Linked DNA regions of Homo sapiens. Changing the gene in region 1 together with any one later gene gives a genetic interaction. Each region holds a gene or a part of one and is shown on either strand. Other genes may lie near its edges.

Evidence for each region.
Region 2: changes in ADPRM (region 1) and FH together harm fitness less than expected from each alone (positive genetic interaction), as found in Homo sapiens cells (one large-scale study listed by BioGRID).
Region 3: changes in ADPRM (region 1) and PHF5A together harm fitness less than expected from each alone (positive genetic interaction), as found in Homo sapiens cells (one large-scale study listed by BioGRID).

Annotation. Positions count from the first base shown.
Region 1 is NC_000017.11:10,707,570-10,709,963, forward strand, and holds part of ADPRM (manganese-dependent ADP-ribose/CDP-alcohol diphosphatase), read left to right. Parts: intron 1-2,394. UniProt on the Homo sapiens protein: Hydrolyzes ADP-ribose, IDP-ribose, CDP-glycerol, CDP-choline and CDP-ethanolamine, but not other non-reducing ADP-sugars or CDP-glucose.
Region 2 is NC_000001.11:241,509,691-241,513,352, reverse strand, and holds part of FH (fumarate hydratase, mitochondrial), read left to right. Parts: intron 1-1,209; coding exon 1,210-1,386; intron 1,387-3,662. UniProt on the Homo sapiens protein: Catalyzes the reversible stereospecific interconversion of fumarate to L-malate. Experiments in other species have demonstrated that specific isoforms of this protein act in defined pathways and favor one direction over the other.
Region 3 is NC_000022.11:41,462,403-41,465,802, reverse strand, and holds part of PHF5A (PHD finger-like domain-containing protein 5A), read left to right. Parts: intron 1-3,400.

The DNA.
Region 1 (2,394 bases):
ACTCTAATGAAGTAATTTCTAAGTGAGAAATTCAGTTAGGGGACCATACCAAATCTCAGCCTTAGAGACCTGCCTATCAGCAAAGTGGCCACCAAACAGAGGCCACTGCTGCCCAGATGCAGCAAAACTGGTATCACAGGGCATGTGTGCTACAGGCTCGGCTGGCACTGAGCACTGTGCAAGCTGTGCCTCCCACACAGTCACAAGGAAGTTAGATTTGTATTTTCATATAGAATCATTTTTGATGGGTACACTGCCATCAGAGATTGTAGGAATCCAGGGGTGCTTAAAACATACAAGCGTGTATGTGCGCATGGGCACGTGAAAACATACACGGAACTGAATTTGGGTTTGCAGCATGGCTGGGAGACTTGGTTTGGAGGTTGAGATTAGAACCCTTGGTTTAGAGTTAGAATTGATGTGGGATAACAGGTGAGAAGGCTAGACTGAGAGCTGGAAGGACAGGATGCCATTCTGGCTCTGGTTTATATGAACTGTGTAGTCCTGGGCAAATAGCAAACCTACAAACTGCAGTGTTCTCAGTAGTGTATCTAATGAAATTATGAATATGAAACCCCTGGCCAAGCACGGTGACTCACGCCCGTAATCCCAGCACTTTGGAAGGCTGAGGTGGGCAGATCATGAGGTCAGGAGTTCGAGACCAGCCTAGCCAACATGGTGAAACCCCGTCTCTACTAAAAATACAAAAATTAGCCGGGCGTGGTGGCAGGCGCCTGTAATCCCAGCTACTCGGGAGGCTGAGGCAGGAGAATCACCTGAAACCAGAAGGCAGAGGTTGCAGTGAGCCAAGATCACCCCACTGCACTCCAGCCTGGGCAACAAGAGTGAAACTCCGTCTCAAAAAAAAAAAAAAAAAAAAACCTTTGAAAATGATAGGCTATTCAGATAGTTGATTATATAAAACTATATTTCTATCTGTAAAGGTAGTTTTTACTTACTAATCTTCCACTGATGTGGTAAAAACACGTAGAAGGAGCAGAAGTGTTTCTGCTAACACTGGAATACCAGGTGTCATTCAAGGGTTGGAAGAGATGAGTGCCCTTGGGTTGTTGGAATGATGTGACACCTTTTGGCTCTATAATAAGTGGTCTCAGAAACTAGGATACTTCTTGACTTGTGTCTGCTTTTAAGTTTTCCACTCTCAGCCTGTTCTGGAGCTGAAAGGAAGCTAGAGTCATATAGCCAAACCTTTGAATTTTAAAGATAAGGAAACTGAAGCCCAAAGAGACTGAATTGCATAGCAGAATCATGGAGCTGCTGACAGCACTGAGACTAGAATCCATGCTTTATGTCTCCATCCCCTTTCCCATGTGATCCTGTGTTCTTCCCTTTTCTTTTTACTCATGGCGGTACACCTATCTAATTTAGCAGTCTCTTACATTTCTTCTACCATTTGATGTAAGCCTAGAAACTGGAAAAGCAAACTTTTAAAAACGGAATGATTGAAGTTTTCTTTAGTAAAGTTTAAAAGTTAAAGTGTAATAAAAAAATTTTCTTTTGCTTTTTAACTTTCATTATGGCTACTCCAAGGTCATCCTATACCTTTTGAATTTTGGCCGTGCAGTTGGAAGGATAGAATTGCCATTAGCTGAGATAGGGGACACTGCAGGATGAGAAGTGCGAGTGGAGAGGGTAGGGCTTCAGGTTTGGAAATAGAAGTTTCAGATGCCTACTAGACATCAGTGGAGATGTTGAGTGGGCAGTTTGGACATTAGAAGTCTGAAATTCAGAATAGAGATTTGGGCTAGATAATAAACGTGGAAGTTGAAAGAGTGTAGATGACATTTAAGGCATGTAAATCACTAAGAGATCACCAGTGCATTCAGTATAAATAGAGAAGTCCGAGGACCAAGCATTCAGGCACTCCTGGTAAGACGTTGGGGAAATGAGGGGGAACCAGCATAGGAGACTGGAAATTAGTGGCCATTGAAGTTGGGGAAAAACTAGAAAGACACCCCTGGGAGAAACAGTGGTGTCCTGGAATCCAAGTGTTTCAGGGAGAAGGGAACAACTAATGGCGTCAAATGCTGCAGGGACTTGATAGATGAGTCAATATGGCTTCGAGGTGCTGGAAAGCAGCACACGCCTTTGGACGCTTAGCCCTAAGGTGGTAATCAGCACATGTATGCACTTTAAAAAAAAAATTGTATTACAAACAGATATTAAATAGAAGCATGTTTAAATTTTGGAATAAAAATGAACGGTAATAGACAAAAAGTGATTTAATGGGAAGATGCAACGTGAGCTGTACTTCAGAGTGAGAACCGTGGCTTGATCATAGATGTGTTGCTGTCAGAAATTAGAACTTCTCCTAACTCTACTTCCACGTATCTCCTGTGGATGCCAGTATAAATCTTCCCTGTTTTAACTCAG
Region 2 (3,662 bases), on another chromosome or scaffold:
AAGAAAATTTTTTGAAAAGATATCATTTGAACTTTACTTGATTTTTTATTTTATATATAAATCTTTTTAAAACCAGTTGATTATTTGATAATGCATATTGAGAATGTAATTTTACTAATATGCTAATAACATTGTCTTAAAGAAGCAATCAGAGGTAACAGAACTGTATATATAGTGTTGTTAATTACAGCACTATTTATAATAATGAAAACAAATTAGACAATGCGTAACTATAACAGCTACTTATATAAATTATATTTATATGGTAAATTATAGAAAATTACTTTTTTGAAGATTGGCATGCACAAAGCCTAGCCTATGAGAAATAGGGAGGAAAGTTTGCAAAAATATATGTATTTTACGATCCTAATTTTGTTTAGGAAAAAATGAACAGAAAGTGTGTGTTTCTCATATACACACACACACACACACACACACACACCCTCATTGCATGAGATAGAGACTGGGGATGCCAACATGCTAATAGTCATAATTACTGAGCAATAGAACTATAGTGACTGTTTTACTTTTCTCAGTTCTCAAAATTTTCTACACTAATCACATATTTTTATATAACCAGAAAAAAGTTTTATTTTAAAGTGGACCAGTTGTTCAAGGTAATAGATTTCTCAAGTGCATTCTGATTTTTTAAGCTAAAATCATTCCAGAAGATTGTTAACCACCCATATTTTACAAAGCACACCATCCAAAAACTAACACATAAGCTGGATGTATAAAAATACAACAAAAATAGGGGCAAATCTGGGCAGCGTTTATTTCTACATTTGGTGATTACTGCTCATTGGACATCTGTGCAATGAAGTAGCTATTAGTGAACTCACATTTTCAAGTTACTAGCTCATTAGCATGCTGACTCTGGCAATAACATCTGTTGGATATTCCTGCTGAGCACCAGCAACAAATATATCTAGAGACTAAACGTATTTGCCAGCCTTAACAGGTGGTCCTCTGTTAGAGGAGGCTGTGGGAGAGAGATAAGAAAGATACCTTTGATTCCCTTTTCATTTGAAACCAGTGAATTGTCATACCATTCACTATAGATAATATTTCACTTTTTAAAGTATCTGTGGTTGGAGCAAGTGATGCTTCAGAAGCTTAGATATGTGGGTCAACTGTATTCAAACTCTGTGGCATAATCAGCATTATTATTTCCTTTTTTAAAATACATTTTTAACATTTTTTCTGCAGGTAGCTGAAGGTAAATTAAATGATCATTTTCCTCTCGTGGTATGGCAGACTGGATCAGGAACTCAGACAAATATGAATGTAAATGAAGTCATTAGCAATAGAGCAATTGAAATGTTAGGAGGTGAACTTGGCAGCAAGATACCTGTGCATCCCAACGATCATGTTAATAAAAGCCAGGTCAGTATGTGAGCTTTGCTGTTTTTTGGTTATAAATTGAAAAGCATACCTGAGATTGTTCTTGTAAAACAAGCATTCACTTTTTGACAAGAAGTGTTCATTATTTAATGGATAAGGCTTCTTATGGTTCTTATTTCTTGAAGGAATCTTGGTTTTATGTTTCAATCCTTATAAAAATTATTTTTAGGACACCTGAATTTAGTGTATGTATTTTTTTATTGTTTAAAACTCTATTTTGAAATAATTTTAGATTTATAAGAGAATTGCAAAGATAGTTCAAATAGTTTCTATATCCCTTCACTCAGCTTCCCTTATTGTTAACATCTTATGTAACCATGGTACATTTATCAAAACTAAGAAATTAACATAGATACAGTACTCTTAGCTAAACAACAGACTTTAAAAAAAAAACAAAAAACTGAGGCTTTCCTCAGTTTTTCCACTCATGTTCTTTTTCAGGATCCAATCAATGCTATACATTACATTTAGTCACATGTCCCCTTGGTTTCTTCTAATCTGTGACAGTTTCTTGGTCTTTTGCGATTGTCTCAGTCCTTTGGGGCTGCAGTAATAAAATACAATAGACTGACTGGCTTATAAACAATAGAAGAAGTTAATTTGTCACAGTTCTGGCAGCTAGAAGTCCGAGGTCAGGCCACTGGCCAATTCATTGGCTTGGTGGGGGCCCACTTTTTGGTTTGTAGATGGCCATCTTTTCTGTGTCCTCACATGGTAGAAGGGACAAGGGAGCTCTCTGGGGTCTCTTCGTAAGGACACTAATTCCGTTCATGAGAGCTTTGCCCTATGAACTAATCACCTTGCAAAGGCCGCATCTCCTAATACTATTACCCTAGGGGTTAGGATTTCACATAGCAGTGACCTTGACACTTTGAAAGCAGTGGTCAGGTATTTTGTAGAATGTCCCTCAATTCTGGTGTGTCTGACGTTTTCTCATTAGATTGAGACTTTTGAATTTTTGAGAAAACTATCACAGAAATAAAGGGCCCTTCTCATTGCATCATATCAGGGGTTCATGATAGCAACATGACTTTTACTGGTGATGTTAACCTTAATCACTTGGTTAAGCTGGTACTTGCCAGGTTTCTCCATGGTAAAATTATAATTTTTCCTCTTCTATACCCTGTTCATTAGAAATAGGTCACTAAACCCTGCCTGCATTCCAGGCACTGTATTTCAGTTTCTAGAGGGAGGAGTATCAAAAAGTTTTTGGGCTTACATTAAAATCACTGTAGTAATTAATAGCGCGCTACCTTGAGGCTAGGCAAACATCTTCTTTTTCCTTAAACTTTTTCCTACTATTTTTAGCATTCATCAGGGAATCTTATCTACAGCAATTACTTCCATGGTGTTTTAATAGTGATTTTCAGTTTTCTTTATTCATTCTACACTTGTTAGTTGAATTTTTCTGCAAGGAAGATTTGTTCTCTCTGTCCCATTTATTTATTTATTCAGTTATTTGGGTATATCAGTATGGACTGATGGTTATTTATTTTATTCTTCAGGTTATGATCCCATACTTTTGTTTATATTGTTGCTTAAATTCTTTCAGCTCTGGGAACCCAATTCATTTGGCTCTTGTGTCCTTTTAGGCATGCCACCATCCTTTTACTTTTCTGAAGTGTGTTCCGACTTCCTGGTACTTTAAGATGCTCCAAGCTCATTGTCTTGTATTGTTTCTGCCCCAGCCCTAGAAACAGCCATTTTTCAAGGAACTGTTGGAGAATTCTTATTGGAAAATGATATTTAGAAACTGAGATCTGGGTGCTAAGTATAATTTAATATATTTTTAAGTAGTAAGGAAGAAGTGTTTTTAATACACGTTCATTGTATAAGGGATTTTCCCAATCTAATACTTGCCTTTATGAATTTATGTTCTATATATACTGAAGTCTGAAGTCTGCCTCAGAAAGGTAGAGTTATAGATGAAACGTGATTGGCTACATGTTGATAATTATGTAAACTATTTGAATTCAGGTGACAGGTACATAAGTGTTTATTATACCATTCATCCTACTTCTTTCGTAAGTACTTTATATTTTGCATAGTAAACGTCAAAATATATAAATAATGTATCTTTTTAAATGACAGTATACTTTTATATATATCTGTGTGTGTGCATGCGTGTGTGTGTGTGTGTGTGTGTGTGTGTGTGTGTGTGTGTGTGTGTTTAGAGATTGTGCTTCACTCTGTCACCCAGGCTGGAGTGCAGTAGAGTGAGCATAGCTCACTGCAGCCTGGAAATGCTGAGCTCCAGG
Region 3 (3,400 bases), on another chromosome or scaffold:
GTTCAAGCGATTCTCCTGCCTCAGCCTCCCGAGTAGCTGGGACTACAGGTGCATGCCACTATGCCCAGCTAGTTTTTGTATTTTTAGTAGAGATGGGGTTTCACTATGCTGGCCAGGTTGGACTCAAACTCCTGACCTTGCGATCCACCCATCTGGGCCTCCCGAAGTGCTGGGATTACAGGCGTGAGCCATCACGCCTGGCCTTATGTTGTCCTTTTACAAGTGTTTCTGGGATGTGCCCATGGTGAAGGCAGTAACGCCAGTACCTCATTTCACGCACTTGGATCCTGCCTACCCCCAGTAAGTGGGAGAGATTGGGCCAGATAAGACCACACCATTGGGCCAGGCACAGTGGCTCATGCCTGCAATCCCAGCACTTTGGGAGGTTGAGGCAGGTGGATCACCTGAGGTCAGGAGTTTGAGAGCAGCCTGGCCAACATGGTGAAACCCCGTCTCTACTAAAAATACGTGGTGGCACACATCTGTAATCCCAGCTACTTGGGAGGCTGAGGCAGGAGAATCGCTTGAACCCAGGAGGCAGAGGTTGCAGTCAGCTGAGCCGAGATCACACCATTGCACTCCAATCTGGGCAACAAGAGCGAAATTCCTTCTCAAAAAAAAAAAGTGAGTACACCATTGAATCTTCTGTTGTTTAGGGAGATGAGAAAGGTCCTGAAGTACCAAAAACATAATGATTTGGACCTTTCTCTTGTCCTCAACTCTGATTTGCATTTACCTTCAACTATCAAGTCACATTCTGCTGTCCGAAAATCCAAATCTAGTCTACTAGCTAGATTACACTTCATTAGAGGCAGGACTTTGGTTTGTCTATTTGCCTCTCCTTTTCTTTAGGTCATGATACAGTGCCTGACATGCGGTGCAAGCATGGTACTTGTATTTTGGTGCTGTCCCTGTAAGTCATCCAGAGGTATCCCCTGTAGGGTGTCTAGCACATAGTAGGTGTTTGTTAATTACTTCTGGTCTATAAGCAGTGAAAGCATGATAAGGTAACAGCAGTGAAGAAAAGTAACAAACAGTTCCTAAACTAGATACAGGATATCTGTTTAAGCCATTTAAGACAGCATTTTCTTGAATTTTTGCATGGGTCTAGCTAGAGTTCTTATGTAGCGTAAGCTTGCAACCAGAGAATGCTTAATAAATGTTAATTGCTGTCTGACTCCTCTGAATGTGGTGTGTGAACTGATACCTTTGGATCCTCATGCCTCATTCTGTCCCTGAGACTTATTCTAGATGTCACTTCCCCTACTTCACATTATACACGAATGTTCTGAGGACATTTGAGATGGAATCTAGCTCACATTTTCAGCACTAGTTTCCAAGGAACACAAAGAAGTCCAGTGACATGATCCAGGCTCTCAGCCTTACAGATCATCATGTAGATTAAGTGGCCGAGGCTCTTTCCTATGCAGAAACCTTCCTACAACCAAGGTACCCCTTGTTATTATTGTCTTCCTGCAACTTTCATAATTGATAAGGGAATTAGACAGGTAAGCTAAGCTAGGTATTCTCATTTATAATTTTTCAAAGCCACAAGAATAACCAGGAGACAGGGATGATGTCTATGGACATTGCTACCAGAGGACTGATTTGTAGGTTCTTATGGTGCCACATCATGTAATCCCCTTAATCTTGATTCCTTTATTCCTTTTGTTTACCATTTTCCTCAGTTCGCCCAACCAGAAAATAAGAAAAATAGCACTAACATTTATGAAGCTCTTAATATATGCAAGGTACTTAGCTGAACATTGTTTTCCAAAAGTTCTGTGTGATACAGATGAGGATGCTAAGGCTTAGAGATGTTAAGCAACTTGGTTAGCCCAAGGTCACGTGGCTAATAAGTGACAGACCCAGGACTAGGGCCTAGGTGGTCTGACTCTTTTTTTTTTTGAGACGCAGTTTCTTTCTTGTCACTCAGACTGGAGTGCAATGGCACGATCTCGGCTCATTACAATCTCCGCCTCCCAGGTTCAAGCGATTCTCCTGCCTAAGCTTCCCAAGTAGCTGGGATTACAGGCACATGCCACCATGCCTGGCTTTTTTTTTTTTTTTTTTTTTTTGAGACAGAGTCTTACTGTGTCTCCCAGGATGGAGTGCAGTGGTGTGATCTTGGCTCACTGCAACCTATGCCTCCTGGGTTCAAGCAATTCTTCCGTCTCAGCCCCCTGAGTAGCTGGGATTACAGGCGTGCACCACCACGCCTGGCTAATTTTTTGTTTTTAGTAGAGACAGAGTTTCACCATGTTGGCTAGGCTGATCTTGAACTCCTGACCTTGTGATCCACCCACCTTGGCCTCCCAAAGTTGCTGGGATTACAGTCATGGACCACCGTGTCCAGCCTAATTTTTGTATCTTCAGTAGAAATGGGGTTTCACCATATTGGTCAGCCTGGTCTCAAGCTCCTGGCCTCAGGTGATCTGCCTGCCTCGGCTTTCCAAAGTGCTGGGATTACAGGCGTGAGCCACCACGCCCGTCGTGACTCAGTGTTTCTTAACCTTTTATTTTTTTTTTCTCATCATTGCACCCCTAAGGAGAAAGGTTAAAAGTTAATGTAAATTAATTAAATTTTGGGGCTGGGCAGGAGCCTACCATCTTAAAGCTAAGCTGTAAGTAGGCCAGGGGCAGTGGCTCACGCCTGTAATCCCAGCGCTTTGGGAGGCCCAGGTAGGCGAATCATGAGGTCAGGAGTTCGAGACCAGACTGACCAACATGGTGAAACCCCATCTCTACTAAAAATACGAAAACCAGCTGGGTGCGGTGGTGGGTGCCTGTAATCCCAGCTACTCAGGAGTCTGAGGCAGGAGAATTGCTTGAACCCAGGAGGCAGAGGTTGCAGTGAGCCCAGATAGCGCCACTGCACTCCAGCCTGAGCGACAGATGAGACTTCACCTCAGAAAAAAAAAAAAAAAGCTAACCCGTAAGTAAAGAACAGAGCTGTGCAGATTGGAGGATTGGGTCATACCATTACTTGGTACCTTCCAGGAATATTTGGGTATCTATAAGGATAGTTTGTAAACCTTGACCTGATCCAGTCTTCTTCTTTTGCAGCTGAGGAGTAATATAAGTCCCAAGAGAAGCAACTTGCCCACATTTGCACAAGTCAGTAAGGCACAGTTTAAGCTATCATCATATCATGAGTTTCATAGCCTCTCTAAAGAGTTGAGAGTCCTGTTATTATGTCTAATATCAGGCCTTTGTCCAGGAGAGGCAGCTAGTGCCTCATTTTTACGAGGACATGAAATATAGATTACGTTGCTTACTTGGGTTCACCTAGCAAGCTATTGGTAGGCGGCTTCCTTGGTACACCAGGCTTCAGAGATGGAAGTGCTCAATGTAATGACTCGATACTTCTTTTCTAGGAGATCCTAAAATGTTAGTGTTA